Homo sapiens: one gene and its partner. Each later gene encodes a partner of the first gene's protein in a complex. Each region holds a gene or a part of one and is shown on either strand. Other genes may lie near its edges.

Evidence for each region. The genes of interacting proteins can lie anywhere in the genome.
Region 2: the proteins of F2 (region 1) and FGA are in contact, whole or in part, in a crystal structure (PDB 2A45), measured with the Homo sapiens proteins. Residues at the interface, in NP_000497.1 of Homo sapiens: Phe382, Lys384, Ser385, Gln387, Leu423, Arg425, Tyr434, Glu439, Lys440, Ile441, Ser442, Met443, Lys470; in NP_000499.1 of Homo sapiens: Trp52, Pro53, Phe54, Cys55, Ser56, Asp57, Glu58.

The regions. Positions count from the first base shown.
Region 1 is NC_000011.10:46,714,713-46,722,794, forward strand, and holds the start of F2 (prothrombin preproprotein), read left to right. Parts: upstream 1-4,500; 5' UTR 4,501-4,523; coding exon 4,524-4,602; intron 4,603-4,989; coding exon 4,990-5,150; intron 5,151-5,810; coding exon 5,811-5,835; intron 5,836-6,077; coding exon 6,078-6,128; intron 6,129-8,082. UniProt on the Homo sapiens protein: Thrombin, which cleaves bonds after Arg and Lys, converts fibrinogen to fibrin and activates factors V, VII, VIII, XIII, and, in complex with thrombomodulin, protein C. Functions in blood homeostasis, inflammation and wound healing.
Region 2 is NC_000004.12:154,587,719-154,595,676, reverse strand, and holds the start of FGA (fibrinogen alpha chain isoform alpha precursor), read left to right. Parts: upstream 1-4,934; 5' UTR 4,935-4,989; coding exon 4,990-5,043; intron 5,044-6,114; coding exon 6,115-6,240; intron 6,241-6,700; coding exon 6,701-6,884; intron 6,885-7,958. UniProt on the Homo sapiens protein: Cleaved by the protease thrombin to yield monomers which, together with fibrinogen beta (FGB) and fibrinogen gamma (FGG), polymerize to form an insoluble fibrin matrix. Fibrin has a major function in hemostasis as one of the primary components of blood clots.

The DNA.
Region 1 (8,082 bases):
AGAAGAGCAAAAAAAAAAAAAGAAATAAAAAATTGAAAACTGCTGATCAGATTGAGAAAAACATAAGATTATTCACCACCTAAAGAGAAAAAATTTCAGTCGAAAGGGAAAAAAATTCATTTTTGTCTTAATAAGGCAAATTCACAATTTTTGAGGTTTTAACAAAATATATGCAGAAAGACAAGGCCACCCCGTAGAACGTGCACACAGCCCTAGGCTTGGAAATGGCTGGATTTAATAATATCTGGTCTTTCTTTGAGCCCTGAAATTCTCTAACACTATGTCTTGGAACATAATTTTACTGTTTTCAGTGGTTATAGAGATTTGCTTTACAATTTAGCATTGGTCTTTACCCATGATTTTGTTTGACGCCAACTTGTTGGGCAGGAATGCACCCCCTGCCCCCCGCTTTGTTATGGCCTTGCTCCTATAGGGCAAGAATATCTGCTTTAAGGCCGGGTGTGGTGGCTCAGGCCTGTAATCCCAGCACTTTGAGGGGCCAAGGCGGGCAGATCACCTGAGGTCAGGAGTTTGAGACCAGCCTGGCCAGTATGGTGAAATCCTGTCTCTACTAAAAATAACAAAAATTAGCTGGGTGTGGTGGCACACACCTGTAATCCCAGCTATTTGGGAGGCCGAAACAAGAGAACCACTTGAACCCAGGAGGCGGAGGTTGCGGTGAGCCGAGATTATGCCACTGCACTCCAGCCTGGGAAACAGAGCAAGATTCCGTCTCACACACAAAAAATATATATATGTCTGCTTTAAGTATGCAGGCCGTGTTTGTGCTGAACGGCAGGAATGCCAAACTTGGCTGCATGGTACCAACTAGGGACCTCAGAGTTCCAAGGAGAACAAACAGTTGGTTCCTGGAGGCTGGGGGCTTGTATCAGACCCTGAAGACTAAGCATGTGCTGGGTCCATTGTTGTCCTGCACCCATGGTAGTGCACTAAACACCTAACCTATATTTAAGTGTTTTTGTTTGTCCAAAAAATGTCTTTTTTTTTTGGGAGTCAAGAGTCTTGCTCTGTTGCCCAGGCTGGAGTGCAGTGACACGATCTCAGCTCACTGCAGCCTCCGCCTCCCGGGTTCAAGCTATTCTCCTGTCTCAGCCTCCCAAATAGCTGAGACTATAGGCACGCACATCCATGCCCAGCTAATTTTTTTATTTTTAGTAGAGACGAGGTGTCTCCATGGTGGCCAGGTTGGTCTTGAACTCCTGTCCTCAAGTGATCCACCTGCCTCGGCCTCCCAAAGTGGTGGGATTGCAGGCATGAGACACCGCGCCCGGCCTGCCTTGTCCCTTCTTAAAATGAGTTGTCCATTTGTAAGCTGCTGATTTCTTTGGGACATTGTCTCCGTAAACTTTTCATAAAGCATCAGTGATTTCACCATTCTTCCACCCAAGCTTCACCGTAAATTTGTTGTTTGTTCTTGCTTCAATTTCAGCAGAATTCATTTAGCTCTGATAAGGGCTCGCTTCAAACTGATGTCTTATCCTTCTTAGTGCCTCAAACTACATCCTGTTCACTCATGTTATAGCAAGTTAGTGTGAGTTTATTTTGGTGCACAAAAATTTTTTTAAATCCATGCAGTCTTTTTTCATAATACGCATTTTCCATGAACTTTTCGAAGACCCCTTGTAGATGTCTGTTGTTTAAACCACCCAGTTTACAGTAATTTTTTTTTTTTTTTGAGATGAAGTCTTGCTCTGTCGCCCAGGCTGGAGTGCATTGGCACACTCTCGGCTCACTGCAACCTCTGCCTCCTGGGTTCAAGCAATTTTTCTGTCTCAGTCTCCCGAGTAGCTGGGATTACAGGTGTGTGCCACCATGCCTAGCTAATTTATGTGTTTTTAGTAGAGACGGGGTTTCACTATGTTGGCCAGGCTGGTCTCGAACTCCTCACCTTGTGATCGGCCCGCCTCGGCCTCCCAAAGTATTGGGATTACAGGCGTGAGCCACTGCACCTGGCCTACAGTAATTTTATAGCAGCCCAGGCTAAGATAGCCATTTCTGGGTATAAGAATGTCATATACTGAACAGGCCTGCAACTGTGAGTAAAAGTCTGCAAAGAGGCCGGGCAGTGGCTCATACCTGTAATCCCAGCACTTTGGGGGGCCGAGGCAGGTGGATCACCTGAGGTCAGCAGTTCGAGACCAGCCTGACCAACATGGTGAAACCCCATCTCTACTAAAAATACAAAATTAGCTGGGCGTGGTAGTGCATGCTTGTAATCCCTAGCATGCACTTGGGAGCTACTTGGGAGGCTGAGGCAGGAGAATCACTTGTACTCAGGAGGCCGAGGTTGCAGTGAGCTGAGATCACGCCACTGCACTCCTTTCTGGGTGACAGAGTGAGACTCCATCTCAAAAAAACAAAACAAAACAAAACAAAAACAAACAAAAAAACCCAACAGGTAGGTAGCAGTGGTTCACGCCTGTAATCCCCACTTTGGGAGGCTAAAGTGGGCAGATCACCTGAGGTCAGGAGTTCACGTCCAGCCTGGGCAACATGGTGAAACTCTGTCTCTACAAAAATACAAAAATTAGCCAGGCATGATGGCGGGTGCCTGTAGTTCCAGCTATTCGGGAGGCTGAGGCAGGAGAATCGCTTGAACCTAGGAGGTAGAGGTTGCAGTGAGCCGAGTTCACGCTATTGCACTCCAGCCTCCATCTCAAAAACAAAACAACAAAAACCCAAAATATATATTATAATTTTATTTTATTTATTCAATTTTATTTTATTTTATTTTATTTTTCTAGGAACAGGTCTCATTCAGGCCAGGCATGGTGGCTCACGCCTGTAATCCCAGCACTTGGGAGGCCGAGGTGGAGGTGGGCGGATCACCTGAGGTCAGGAGTTCGAGACCATCCTGGTCAATGTGGCGAAACCCCATCTCTACTAAAAATACAAAAATTAGCCAGGTGTGGTGGCACACGCCTGTAATTCCAGCTACTTGGGATACTGAGTCAGGAGAATCACTTGAACAGGGAGATGGAAATTGCAGTGAGCCGAGATTGTTCCACTGCACTCCAGCCTGGGTGACAGGGCGAGACTCCGTCTCAAAAAAAAAAAAAAAAAAGAAAGAAAGAAAGAAAGAAAGAAACAGGATCTTACTCTGTTACCCAGGCTGGAGTACAGTGGTGCAATCATAGCTCACTGCAGCCTGGAACTCCTGGGCTCAAGTGATCCTCCTGCCTCAGCCTCCTCAGTAGCTCAGACTGCAGGCATGCACCACCATTCCCAGCTAATTTTTAATTTTTTTTTGGTAGAGATGAGGGTCTTGCTATGTTGCCCAGGCTGGTCTCAAACTCCTGGCCTCAAGCGATCCTGCCATGTCGGCCTCCCAAAGTGTTGGGATTACAAGTGTGAGCCACTATGCCTGGCCTAAAAATATATATATGAAAATATATAAGAAATGGGCCTCCCAGGAATTAAGGTGTTTGCGGGAGTCCTGGTCCCCAGTTTTTCTGCCAACACTCCCTGTTCCCACACATGACCTGGTCCAGACCCCAAACAGCCAGGCCCAAAGGACAGGTGAGGCGAGGCGAGAACTTGTGCCTCCCCGTGTTCCTGCTCTTTGTCCCTCTGTCCTACTTAGACTAATATTTGCCTTGGGTACTGCAAACAGGAAATGGGGGAGGGACAGGAGTAGGGCGGAGGGTAGGGTAGGACCAGAAGCCTCTCTAGGCCTGCCATGGGGCAGGCAGCCAGGGAGAAGGAGGGCCCCTCAGTGGAGACCCAGGGATTTCAGTAGCCCCTGTTCCGGGACAGGCGCAGGTCCTGGGAGGTGACAGAAGATAGACTAAAGGCCCAAGAGTCCCTGGACCTGACTCCTCCCAGGCAGCTGCCACACACAAACACACCTCCAGGCACCCTGGACAGGAAGGAGGAGAAATGGGCCCCTCCTCCAGTGGCTGAGAAGCTGGGGCAAATGTTGGCTGTTCCTATCCCTGGTGCATCCCATGGCGAGGGGCAACTTCCATCAGGCCACACCTTTTATCTTTGTCTCTATTTTTGATATCTGTGTATTATGATTATACAAACCCCCACATTGGCCTATATGTGCAGATCTGATTAAGAACTTACGATATTCCATGGACATTCCATTCCTAATCTCCTTTAGTCCTCACAACAAAGTATTATTCCCATTGTATAGATGAGGAAACTGAGGCACACAGAGATGACAAGCAACCACCGCTATATGTTAGGATTCGAAGGAGCTCCAGGAAAGTCTCATAGCCCCACTGGCCAGAATGGGCTAAATCTCAGAGGGGGAGGGTGGGAGATGGGGGTGACAGTGACCTTTTTTGTGACTCCTCCTAGACCATCCATCCCTGCTCCCAGGAGGACCTGTCCTCCCAGATGGTGGAGATGGACAGGAGGACTATCTACCCACCCGTCCCCACGGCCCTGACCCTCTGACCTCACCCTCTCCGCTGATTTCTTCATGTTAGTTCAACATTAACCCAGAGGGGTCAGGACAGACAATTCCTCAGTGACCCAGGAGCTGACACACTATGGCGCACGTCCGAGGCTTGCAGCTGCCTGGCTGCCTGGCCCTGGCTGCCCTGTGTAGCCTTGTGCACAGCCAGCATGGTAAGGGAGTGCTTGCAGGCTGGAACAGGCTGGAGGACTGGGGTGTGGGCCCATGGGCTGGGGTCTCCTGGCTGGACAGAGCACACAGAGCTGGCCCCTAAGTAGGTCTCAGCCCCAGGCGGCCAGCTTAGGGAAGAAGTCAGGAGCTCAGGGCTGGAAAGAGAATGGCTGCTTCTCTCTTCCAATATAGGGAGCAGGCTGGGGGCAAGGGGCAGTGTAGGAGGGGCACAGGGGGCCACATTTAGCAGCCTTCCAGGCACTTCCACCAGCCCAGACAGCCTCTCTCAGAAGCCAGCAGGGGAGGGTGGGCTTGCTTCATGCCCCCAGAATGGCCAAGACTGCCTGTTCCTGAGGCCGCTGTCCCATGACCCCCCCACCGCCTTACAGTGTTCCTGGCTCCTCAGCAAGCACGGTCGCTGCTCCAGCGGGTCCGGCGAGCCAACACCTTCTTGGAGGAGGTGCGCAAGGGCAACCTGGAGCGAGAGTGCGTGGAGGAGACGTGCAGCTACGAGGAGGCCTTCGAGGCTCTGGAGTCCTCCACGGCTACGGTGAGCCTGGGCTGCTCGGACGGTGCCGGGGCCTCAGACCGGGCCCAACTCTAGACACTTCCACAGAGAAGCAAGCGAGGAACGCCACAGCCCCTTCGCTGCTCACAGCCTCATTTCAACTCTGAGCCCCTCCTCACAGGGCTGGCAAGAGGAGCGGCCTCAGCCTTTCCTGGGGGTCTCTGTGCCTGGACTGTGTCCCTGTGCAGCTCCATGACATGGGGAGGCCTCCACAGTCTTCAGACATCCACCTGCCCTGGAGCTCTGTGTCCACATGGCCTCCTCAGCGGCAGACTCCCACACCACCCTTGAGGGGTGGGACTCTGGGGAGGCCACCACAAGCCCCCGGGCTCAAGACTCAGTGTTCCTGGAGCTCTGTGTCGCCTTTCCTGTCTGTAGGGCTCTGCCAGGGTCCCACTGCCCCCTCTCCTCCCATCTCCCCCAGCCTCTTTCAGTCTCGGTGTGTGTGTTGGAGGAACTCCCCTATCCTCAAATATTCTTCTCCTTTTGGAAACAAAAGTAGGAAACTCTGCCACAAACCTCCCCAGAGCCTGCCCCCTGCGTGACCAGGGTAAAGGAAAGTGTGAGGAGGAGACATAACATTTACTAAAACAACACAAAACAGGAGCTGCCGTAGCCTCACTCCCAGCCCTTGTTTTTCAGGATGTGTTCTGGGCCAAGTACACAGGTGAGCACCGGGAAGGATTTGCCCCAGGAAGGGAGGCCTGGGGACCCCAGTGAGAGAATTCTACCCAGAGAATCTTCTGCTGCACCTAGCCATCCACCCATCCACCCCTTCCCCACTCCTTCCTTGGTCCCTCCCATCTGTTCATCCATCTTTCTGTTTCTCACCAACATCCCATCCACCCTGACTCCAGCTCATCCTGGCCATACCCCAATCCCAAAGGTAAACACCTGGGTCTTTTCCAGCTTGTGAGACAGCGAGGACGCCTCGAGATAAGCTTGCTGCATGTCTGGAAGGTGAGCAACTGACACGGGTTTGGGGAGCAGGACATGGAGGGGAGCCTGGGAGAAGAGCTCAGGGGTGGGTTTGGAGTGTGGCTGGTGGAGGCCGAGGCAGTCCCCAGCATCTGACATTGCTCCCATTCCTGGGGTCAAGATGTCTCTTTGTACCTGGCTCTGTGTCTGGCATGCGAACGAATGAATGAATGAATGGACTAATGAATTAATGTTTTTTTTTTTGAGACAGAGTCTCGCTCTGTTGCCCAGGCTGGAGTGCAGTGGCACGATCTTGGCTCACTGTAAACTCCGCCTCCCGGGTTCAAGCAATTCTCTGCCTCAACCTCCCAAGTAGCTGGGATTACAGGTGCTCGCCACCACGCCTGGCTAATTTTTGTATTTTTAGTAGAGACGGGGTTTCACCATGTTGGCCAGGCTGGTCTTGAACTCCTGACCTCGTGATCCACCCACCTCGGCCTCAAAGTGCTGGGATTATAGAAGTGAGCCACCGCGCCTGGCCATGAATTCATGTTTAAGGCTTCATTCTCCTTTGCCTGACCCGAGTCTCTGCCCCCACCTAGTCAGAGCTTTGATGATGTCACATTCCCCTTCTAGCTTTAGGTGTCACTGAACCAAACAGGAACCCAAACCCCCAGCTGCTCTGACACCAAGGACTTCCCTAAGCATGCCAAGGTGTTTCTAGCACCTGGCCTTGCATATGTTGTCAATTTCCTCTGGAGCGACCATCACATCTACTGAACACTTTCCTATCCTTCAAGGACTGCTTCAAATGTCACCACTTTTGCTGAGACTTCAGGGAGCACCCTCCCTCCTGCACTGTGTTCTGAAGGCACCTTTAGCACGACAAAAATGGAACTCTTTGTTTATTTATAAGAGACAGGGTCTCCCTTTTTTGCCCAGGCTGATCTTGAACTCCTGGGCTCAGGCAATTCTCCCATCTCAGTCTCCCAAAGGAGTAGGATTATAAGTGTGAGCCACCATGCCTGGCTGCCATACTTTCATTTTTTTTTTTTTTTTTTTGAGGTGGAGTCTCACTCTGTCGCCTAGGCTGGAGTGCAGCAGCGCGATCTCGGCTCGCTGCAACCTCCGCCTAGCGGATTCAAGTGATTCTCCTGCCTTAGCCTCCTGAGTAGCTGGGATTACAGGCACACACTACCATGCCCAGCTAATTTTTTGTATTTTTTAGTAGAGACGGGGTTTCACCATGTTGGCCAGGCTGGTCACAAACTCCTGACCTCAGGTGATCCACCAGCCTCAGCCTCCCAGAGTGCTGGGATTACAGGTGTAATCCACTGCGCCCAGCCTCATTTGTTAAATTACGTACTCAACAGACATTTTACAAAGTTCCTGCTACGTGCCAGGCACTATATCAGGTGCTGGGGATTTTAAGAGAATCAAATACAGTCTCTGCCTTCAAGGAATTCAAAATCTCAAAAGAGAACAAAAATACAAAATATTAAAATGATTGCGGCCGGGTGTGGTGGCTCAAGCCTGTAATCCTAGCACTTTGGGAGCTGAGGTGGGCGCCCAGGCCAGGGGTTTGAGACCATCCTGGCCAACATAGTGAAACCCCCAACCTCTACTAAAAATACAAAAATTAGCTGGGGTGTGGTGGCACGCGCCTGTAATCCTAGCTACTAGGGAGGCTGATGGGGGAGAATTTCTTGAATCTGGGAGGCAGAGGTTGCAGTGAGCTGAGATCATGCCACTGCACTTCAGTCTCGGCAACAGAACAAGACTCATCTCAAAATACATAAATAAAAATAAATAATTCAATAAAGTGATTGCAAGAAAAGTTCTGTTCAAGGCACCAAGAGACCACAGGAAAATGAGTGTCTGGTTTGCCAGAAAAATGAGAGATGGCTTCCCAGGAGAGGCAGAGTTCTGCCTGGCCTGGTGGGATGCATGGATGAACAAACAAGTGGGCATTCCAGTCAGAAGAAACAATCCGTGG
Region 2 (7,958 bases), on another chromosome or scaffold:
AGTCATTTCAAAATTTAGAAGATAATTTTAGTACTTTCCAAGAATGCACTTAATATTGTTTTAACAAAATAGTTCCTGTCAAAGTACTATTATCTTCTTGTTATTAGGATACCAAATGTCTTTGGAAAGAATGTACAGATTCATGTAGATTTTTATGATAGATGACATAAGAATTTTTCAGAAACATCTTGTATTTTGAGACCTGAATTAAATCTGACTTTTTAAGAAATATCTCACACAAACAAAACAAAAAGCAATACGTAAGTGATATAACACTCTCTGCTGTGTGTTCTAACAGAACTCAGCATATAGCTTACAGATTTTTTCCATTGTTTTATATTAGATTAAACCGTATAAAACTGTAGATATTATTGTTTTGACCTACAAAAATGTCAAGTTTACATAGTTTAACTTAATTCTCAGCTGCATAACGTATTTGACTTGCTTGCCAATTGTAAGCAACTTGAAGGTAAAAGACTATACATTGTTTGCCTTTTTATCTTAAGCACATAGTATGCAGGACTAGAGAAATAATATACATAGGATAAATGATTGCTAAATTTAGACAAATGAGTGAATGAGTGAGCTGCTCTCAGAAATCAATGCATTTAATTTCTGGTGTCAGCCCAGGGTAAGACAAATATTCCATTCAAAATAACACTGTTGTTTTGTTTTGTATTTTTAAGTTGTATTTATACAATTGCAAATATATAGATAACTGGTTATATATTTTACTTTTCCTGTGGAAGCTGTGATGAGTAGATATAGTTTAAAACTGAAACATATAGCTATAGAATTTCTACTCTTTCTGTATACATTATATACCACACAAATAAAGCTATTAAAACTAGTAAAAACTATTCTAGTCATGCCAAAAGTTATGGCATAACAAATGTGTAAATTCCTGCATTCAAATGTTTATATTAACATTTATATTTAAATGTTTATATTACATTAACTTCAAAAGGATAGATATATCAAACATCCTTCTCATTAGAGCTAAGGTAAATAGGATGTAGTTATCTATAGGAAAAAGACAAACCTGGTGCAGTAGCTCATGCCTGTAATCCCAGCACTTTGGGAGGCTGAAGTGGGTGGAGCACCTCAGGTCAGGAGTTCAAGACCAGCCTGGTCAACATGGGGAAACCCTATCTCTACTAAAAATACAAAAAATTAGCCAGTCATGGTGGTGGGCACCTGTAATCCCAGCTACTCAGGAGGCTGAGGCAGGAAAATCGCTTGAACCCGGGAGGCAGAGGTTGCAGTAAGCTGAGATGGCGCTGTTGCACTCCAGCCTGGGTGGCAGAGTGAGACTCCATCTCAAAAAGAAAAAGCCAATGCACGGCAGATTATAATTTAAGCAACTGAAAATTTCTTCCATCTTTTTTCCAGTTTTGCACATTTAAAGATACGCTTATTGTCACATGCTTTTTAAAAAATGATACTCGTATCATGCCTATTAATTTGCATGGTTTTCCAGCTAAACAAAACCTACTCCTCCAAAGCTTACAATACAGCCTGTTCATGGGGCAGAGAGCCCAGCCTAGTGAGCAGCCTGCAGTGTGGGGCCAAACAGTGAGCTACAGAAGTGCCTCATTAGGGACTCCTGGTACTACAGTCAAAACAAGGGAACATTTTATCATGGAGCATTGGGATATTCTAGGAACAATAAAAGCTACTGTTTCTAGAGCTCCTGCTGTGTATGGCCAACATTTTACATACACCATTTTACATAATCTTCACAGCAATCCTGTAAGACAAATATCATCATCCCATTTATAGCTCAGAGAATTTAAATAGTTTGCCCATGTCACTTAGCTGGAATCCAGGTCTCACATGCTGGAAAGCCCACCATGCATTGTCACCACCATATGGTGACAGCCTTCCATTTCTCCAGCAGATACTGAGCAGCAATTGCTCTATGCCTGACATTTGTGCCAGTCCTTGTGCCTTGGCCTCAGGAAGCTTTGTGTAGGCAAGACACAGAATAAACAAATACCTTCCCAAATGCACATTGTCCAGGAGTTATAAGGTACTGCGTGGAAAAACCAAGCAGAGTCAATGGAATGACATGCGAGAGTGGCAGCTCTTTAGATCAGGTGGCCAGAGAAGGCCTCTCTGAGTAGATGCCATGTGAGCAGAGGCCAGGAGTAAGAAAGGGTGTGAGATGTGCTGATTCTGAGAGGCAAGGATAAAGCCCTCAGGTGGCATCCTTGGAAACACCCTGACATGGCACTAGGGTGGTGGCATTCAACCAAATTGTTTTCTGTTAATTTACCTTCAATCAGATTATGTTCAGCCGACTCACCTAAGGCCTACCAGGTTACTCTCGGGAACTTCTTTGCTATATACCATGTTCACCTCCCAAAGGGGCACTTCTTGTGGGCATAGGAAAATGTGTGCAGAGATCAAGCCTCACCTTCCTATCTAATCCTGACATTTTGCCAGTGCAGTCATTGTGAGTGAGTGTAACCCAGCTTTTCATGGAATCATTGCCCTCTGGAACCTGGATGGGGCTCTGGGGCTTCCTCTTTGCTCTGCAGTTAACTCTAAAATCATAGCAAGCTGCTTCAGGGGTGAGCTTGATCAGACAAGGAGTCTTCCATAGAGCAGACAGTGCACTGCCTTGCACCAGGGCTTCCATCCATTTATAGAAAGCTTCACACGTCTGCAGTGCTGGGGGAGGCAGCCAGGCAACTTCGCATCTCTGGAACCCACTTATGCTTTCTTGCTCAATGAGGGCCCACACCTTTTGGGGAGAATATAAAGACCAATAAAACATTTCAATTCTCAAGTTTATGATCTAGTGGAGGAGACAGACGGTACTCCTATAATGATAAATGCCATTAGTGGTGCACAGTCTAAGGAAGTATGAAAGAACATGAGATTCCTTTTAATTGGACATTGAATCAGGTACCCTGCAAAATGTCTAGCAAAGAACCCAAGACTTAGTAAACATTCAATACACATTAGCTATTACTCTATTAGGATTGGCTTCATGTAGGAAGCAGAATTTGAGGCAAGGTAGGATTGCCAGATAAAGTACAGGATGTCCAGTAAAGTTTGAATTTCAGATGAACAACAAAAAAATTTTAAGTGTGTCTCAAATATCACATGAGACATACTTATACTCAAATAGATTTGTTGTTTATCTGAAATTCAAATTTAACTGGGACACTCTTATTTTTATTTGCTATTTCCGCCAACCTAATACATCTGGTAAATGTAAGCTGAAGATGTTTTTTACCTTTATTGAAGTATAATTGACAAATAAAAATTGCATAATTTAGGTTGTACAGCTGGATGTTTGTTTTTTTATTTTCCTTTAAAGGGGAACTTCTCTCTGATTGGTGTTTTGATACACATAAACATTGTGAAATGATTACCACTATTAATCTAATTAGCACTTAAAACACCTCATATAGTTATCTTTTTGTGTGGTGAGAAGACTTAAGATCTACCTTTTTAGCAAATTTCAAATATACAGCATAATATTATCAACTATAGTCACCATGCTGCACATTGGACTCCAGAACTTATTTATATTGCATAGCTCAAACTTTGTGCCCTCTAACCAACATCTCCCCCATTTCTCCTATGCCTCAGGCCCTGGCCACCACCATTCTACACTTTTCTTCCGTGAGTTTGACTATTTTAGATTTCACATGTAAGAAAGATCATACAGTATTTGTCTTTCTTTTCCGTTTTTTTTTTTTTTTTTGAGAAGGAGTCTCACTCTGTGGCCCAGGCTGGAGTGCAATGATGCAATCTCGGCTCACTGCAACCTCCTCCACCTCCCGCGTTCAAGTGATTCTCCCTGCCTCAGCCTCCTGAGTAGCTGGGATTACAGGTGCCTGTCACCACGACCAGCTAAGCAGTATTTGTCTGTCTATATCTGCTCATTTCACTTAGGATAATGCCCTCTAGGTTCATCAATGTTACTGCAAATGACAGAATTTCCTTCTTTTTCAAGGCTGAGTAATACTCCATTGTGTATATATATATATACACATTTTCTTTATCTACTCATCCATCAGTGGAAACAGGTTGTTTTCATATCTCGGCTATTGTCAATATAGCTACAATGAACATGGGAATGCAGGTGTCTCTTCAAGATCCTGATTTCATTTCCTTTGGAAATACACTCAGAAATGAGATTGCTAGCACAGAAACAGGAAATAAATGGTATTTTTCATGGCACTTTATGATCTCCCATAATTCACTGAGTATTTCCTATGTGACAGTCACTGTTCTGAGAGATTTACAAGAATTAACTCATTTATTCTTCATAAAAGCATGGGGTAGCTTATCAGCATCCTTATTTTATAAATGAGGAAACTGAAGTATAAAGAGGTAAAGTAACTTGTCCAAGAACATAGAGCAGGGAAGTGGTGCAGCTTGGATTATGAACCCAAGATGTTTTGTTCCTGGGGCTGCTGTCATCTTAATATTTTAAATAGAGAAAAGTAATATGTTCTAAATAAACTTATAGAAAGCCTTCAGGGCCAGCTTATCCCCAAAGTTATTTTTTTTATAAGCCAGATCACCCAACCCTAATTTCTGCATAAAGTGAAATATTGTTTGCTAAATCACTACTACTGGGGGCTACAGCTAGCTTACCTAAGCACCTTCTATATTCTTTCACGTTTAGAAATATGGATATACCCTCCTATGCTCCTCTTTTCATTCTCAAAGCCACCCTGTTCCTGGAATGTGAGATCTCCTAATTGTTGACTGGAGAATCAAATGCTACCTTTGCAACAGCTTATCGGAAGCAAACAAGCTGAGGGGAATTGAGCAAGAATTTCTGGGATACCAACAGCATAGGAGGAACAAAGGACGTAGAGGGAGGGTTGACTGTCTACACAGGACAAAGCCAATGATTAACCAAACCTCTTGCAGATTTAAATAGGATGGGAACTAGGAGTGGCAGCAATCCTTTCTTTCAGCTGGAGTGCTCCTCAGGAGCCAGCCCCACCCTTAGAAAAGATGTTTTCCATGAGGATCGTCTGCCTGGTCCTAAGTGTGGTGGGCACAGCATGGGTATGGCCCTTTTCATTTTTTCTTCTTGCTTTCTCTCTGGTGTTTATTCCACAAAGAGCCTGGAGGTCAGAGTCTACCTGCTCTATGTCCTGACACACTCTTAGCTTTATGACCCCAGGCCTGGGAGGAAATTTCCTGGGTGGGCTTGACACCTCAAGAATACAGGGTAATATGACACCAAGAGGAAGATCTTAGATGGATGAGAGTGTACAAACTCACAAGGGAAACTTTAGCATCTGTCATTCAGTCTTACCACATTTTGTTTTGTTTTGTTTTAAAAAGGGCAAGAATTATTTGCCATCCTTGTACCTATAAAGCCTTGGTGCATTATAATGCTAGTTAATGGAATAAAACATTTTATGGTAAGATTTGTTTTCTTTAGTTATTAATTTCTTGCTACTTGTCCATAATAAGCAGAACTTTTAGTGTTAGTACAGTTTTGCTGAAAGGTTATTGTTGTGTTTGTCAAGACAGAAGAAAAAGCAAACGAATTATCTTTGGAAATATCTTTGCAGTATCAGAAGAGATTAGTTAGTAAGGCAATACGCTTTTCCGCAGTAATGGTATTCTTTTAAATTATGAATCCATCTCTAAAGGTTACATAGAAACTTGAAGGAGAGAGGAACATTCAGTTAAGATAGTCTAGGTTTTTCTACTGAAGCAGCAATTACAGGAGAAAGAGCTCTACAGTAGTTTTCAACTTTCTGTCTGCAGTCATTAGTAAAAATGAAAAGGTAAAATTTAACTGATTTTATAGATTCAAATAATTTTCCTTTTAGGATGGATTCTTTAAAACTCCTAATATTTATCAAATGCTTATTTAAGTGTCACACACAGTTAAGAAATTTGTACACCTTGTCTCCTTTAATTCTCATAACAACTCCATAAAATGGGTCCTAGGATTTCCATTTGAAGATAAGAAACCTGAAGCTTGCCGAAGCCCTGTGTCTGCTCTCCTTAATCTCTGTGAGAGTGCCATCTCTTCCTGGGGACTTGTAGGCATGCCACTGTCTCCTCTTCTGGCTAACATTGCTGTTGCTCTCTTTTGTGTATGTGAATGAATCTTTAAAGACTGCAGATAGTGGTGAAGGTGACTTTCTAGCTGAAGGAGGAGGCGTGCGTGGCCCAAGGGTTGTGGAAAGACATCAATCTGCCTGCAAAGATTCAGACTGGCCCTTCTGCTCTGATGAAGACTGGGTAAGCAGTCAGCGGGGGAAGCAGGAGATTCCTTCCCTCTGATGCTAGAGGGGCTCACAGGCTGACCTGATTGGTCCCAGAAACTTTTTTAAATAGAAAATAATTGAATAGTTACCTACATAGCAAATAAAGAAAAGGAACCTACTCCCAAGAGCACTGTTTATTTACCTCCCCAACTCTGGATCATTAGTGGGTGAACAGACAGGATTTCAGTTGCATGCTCAGGCAAAACCAGGCTCCTGAGTATTGTGGCCTCAATTTCCTGGCACCTAATTTATGGCTAAGTGGACCCTCATTCCAGAGTTTCTCTGCGACCTCTAACTAGTCCTCTTACCTACTTTTAAGCCAACTTATCTGGAAGAGATAGGGTAGGAAGAAATGGGGGCTGCATGGAAACATGCAAAATTATTCTGAATCTGAGAGATAGATCCTTACTGTAATTTTCTCCCTTCACTTTCAGAACTACAAATGCCCTTCTGGCTGCAGGATGAAAGGGTTGATTGATGAAGTCAATCAAGATTTTACAAACAGAATAAATAAGCTCAAAAATTCACTATTTGAATATCAGAAGAACAATAAGGATTCTCATTCGTTGACCACTAATATAATGGAAATTTTGAGAGGCGATTTTTCCTCAGCCAATAGTAAGTATTACATATTTACTGCTTTGACTTTATAACAGAAACAACAAAAATCCTAAATAAATATGATATCCGCTTATATCTATGACAATTTCATCCCAAAGTACTTAGTGTAGAAACACATACCTTCATAATATCCCTGAAAATTTTAAGAGGGAGCTTTTGTTTTCGTTATTTTTTCAAAGTAAAAGATGTTAACTGAGATTGTTTAAGGTCACAAAATAAGTCAGAATTTTGGATTAAAAACAAGAATTTAAATGTGTTCTTTTCAACAGTATATACTGAAAGTAGGATGGGTCAGACTCTTTGAGTTGATATTTTTGTTTCTGCTTTGTAAAGGTGAAAACTGAGAGGTCAAGGAACTTGTTCAAAGACACAGAGCTGGGAATTCAACTCCCAGACTCCACTGAGCTGATTAGGTAGATTTTTAAATTTAAAATATAGGGTCAAGCTACGTCATTCTCACAGTCTACTCATTAGGGTTAGGAAACATTGCATTCACTCTGGGCATGGACAGCGAGTCTAGGGAGTCCTCAGTTTCTCAAGTTTTGCTTTGCCTTTTTACACCTTCACAAACACTTGACATTTAAAATCAGTGATGCAACACTAGCTGGCAAGTGAGTGATCCTGTTGACCCAAAACAGCTTAGGAACCATTTCAAATCTATAGATTAAAAAGAAAAGCTCATCAGTAAGAAAATCCAATATGTTCAAGTCCCTTGATTAAGGATGTTATAAAATAATTGAAATGCAATCAAACCAACTATTTTAACTCCAAATTACACCTTTAAAATTCCAAAGAAAGTTCTTCTTCTATATTTCTTTGGGATTACTAATTGCTATTAGGACATCTTAACTGGCATTCATGGAAGGCTGCAGGGCATAACATTATCCAAAAGTCAAATGCCCCATAGGTTTTGAACTCACAGATTAAACTGTAACCAAAATAAAATTAGGCATATTTACAAGCTAGTTTCTTTCTTTCTTTTTTCTCTTTCTTTCTTTCTTTCTTTCTTTCTTTCTTTCTTTCTTTCTTTCTTTCTTTCTTTCTCCTTCCTTCCTTTCTTCCTTTCTTTTT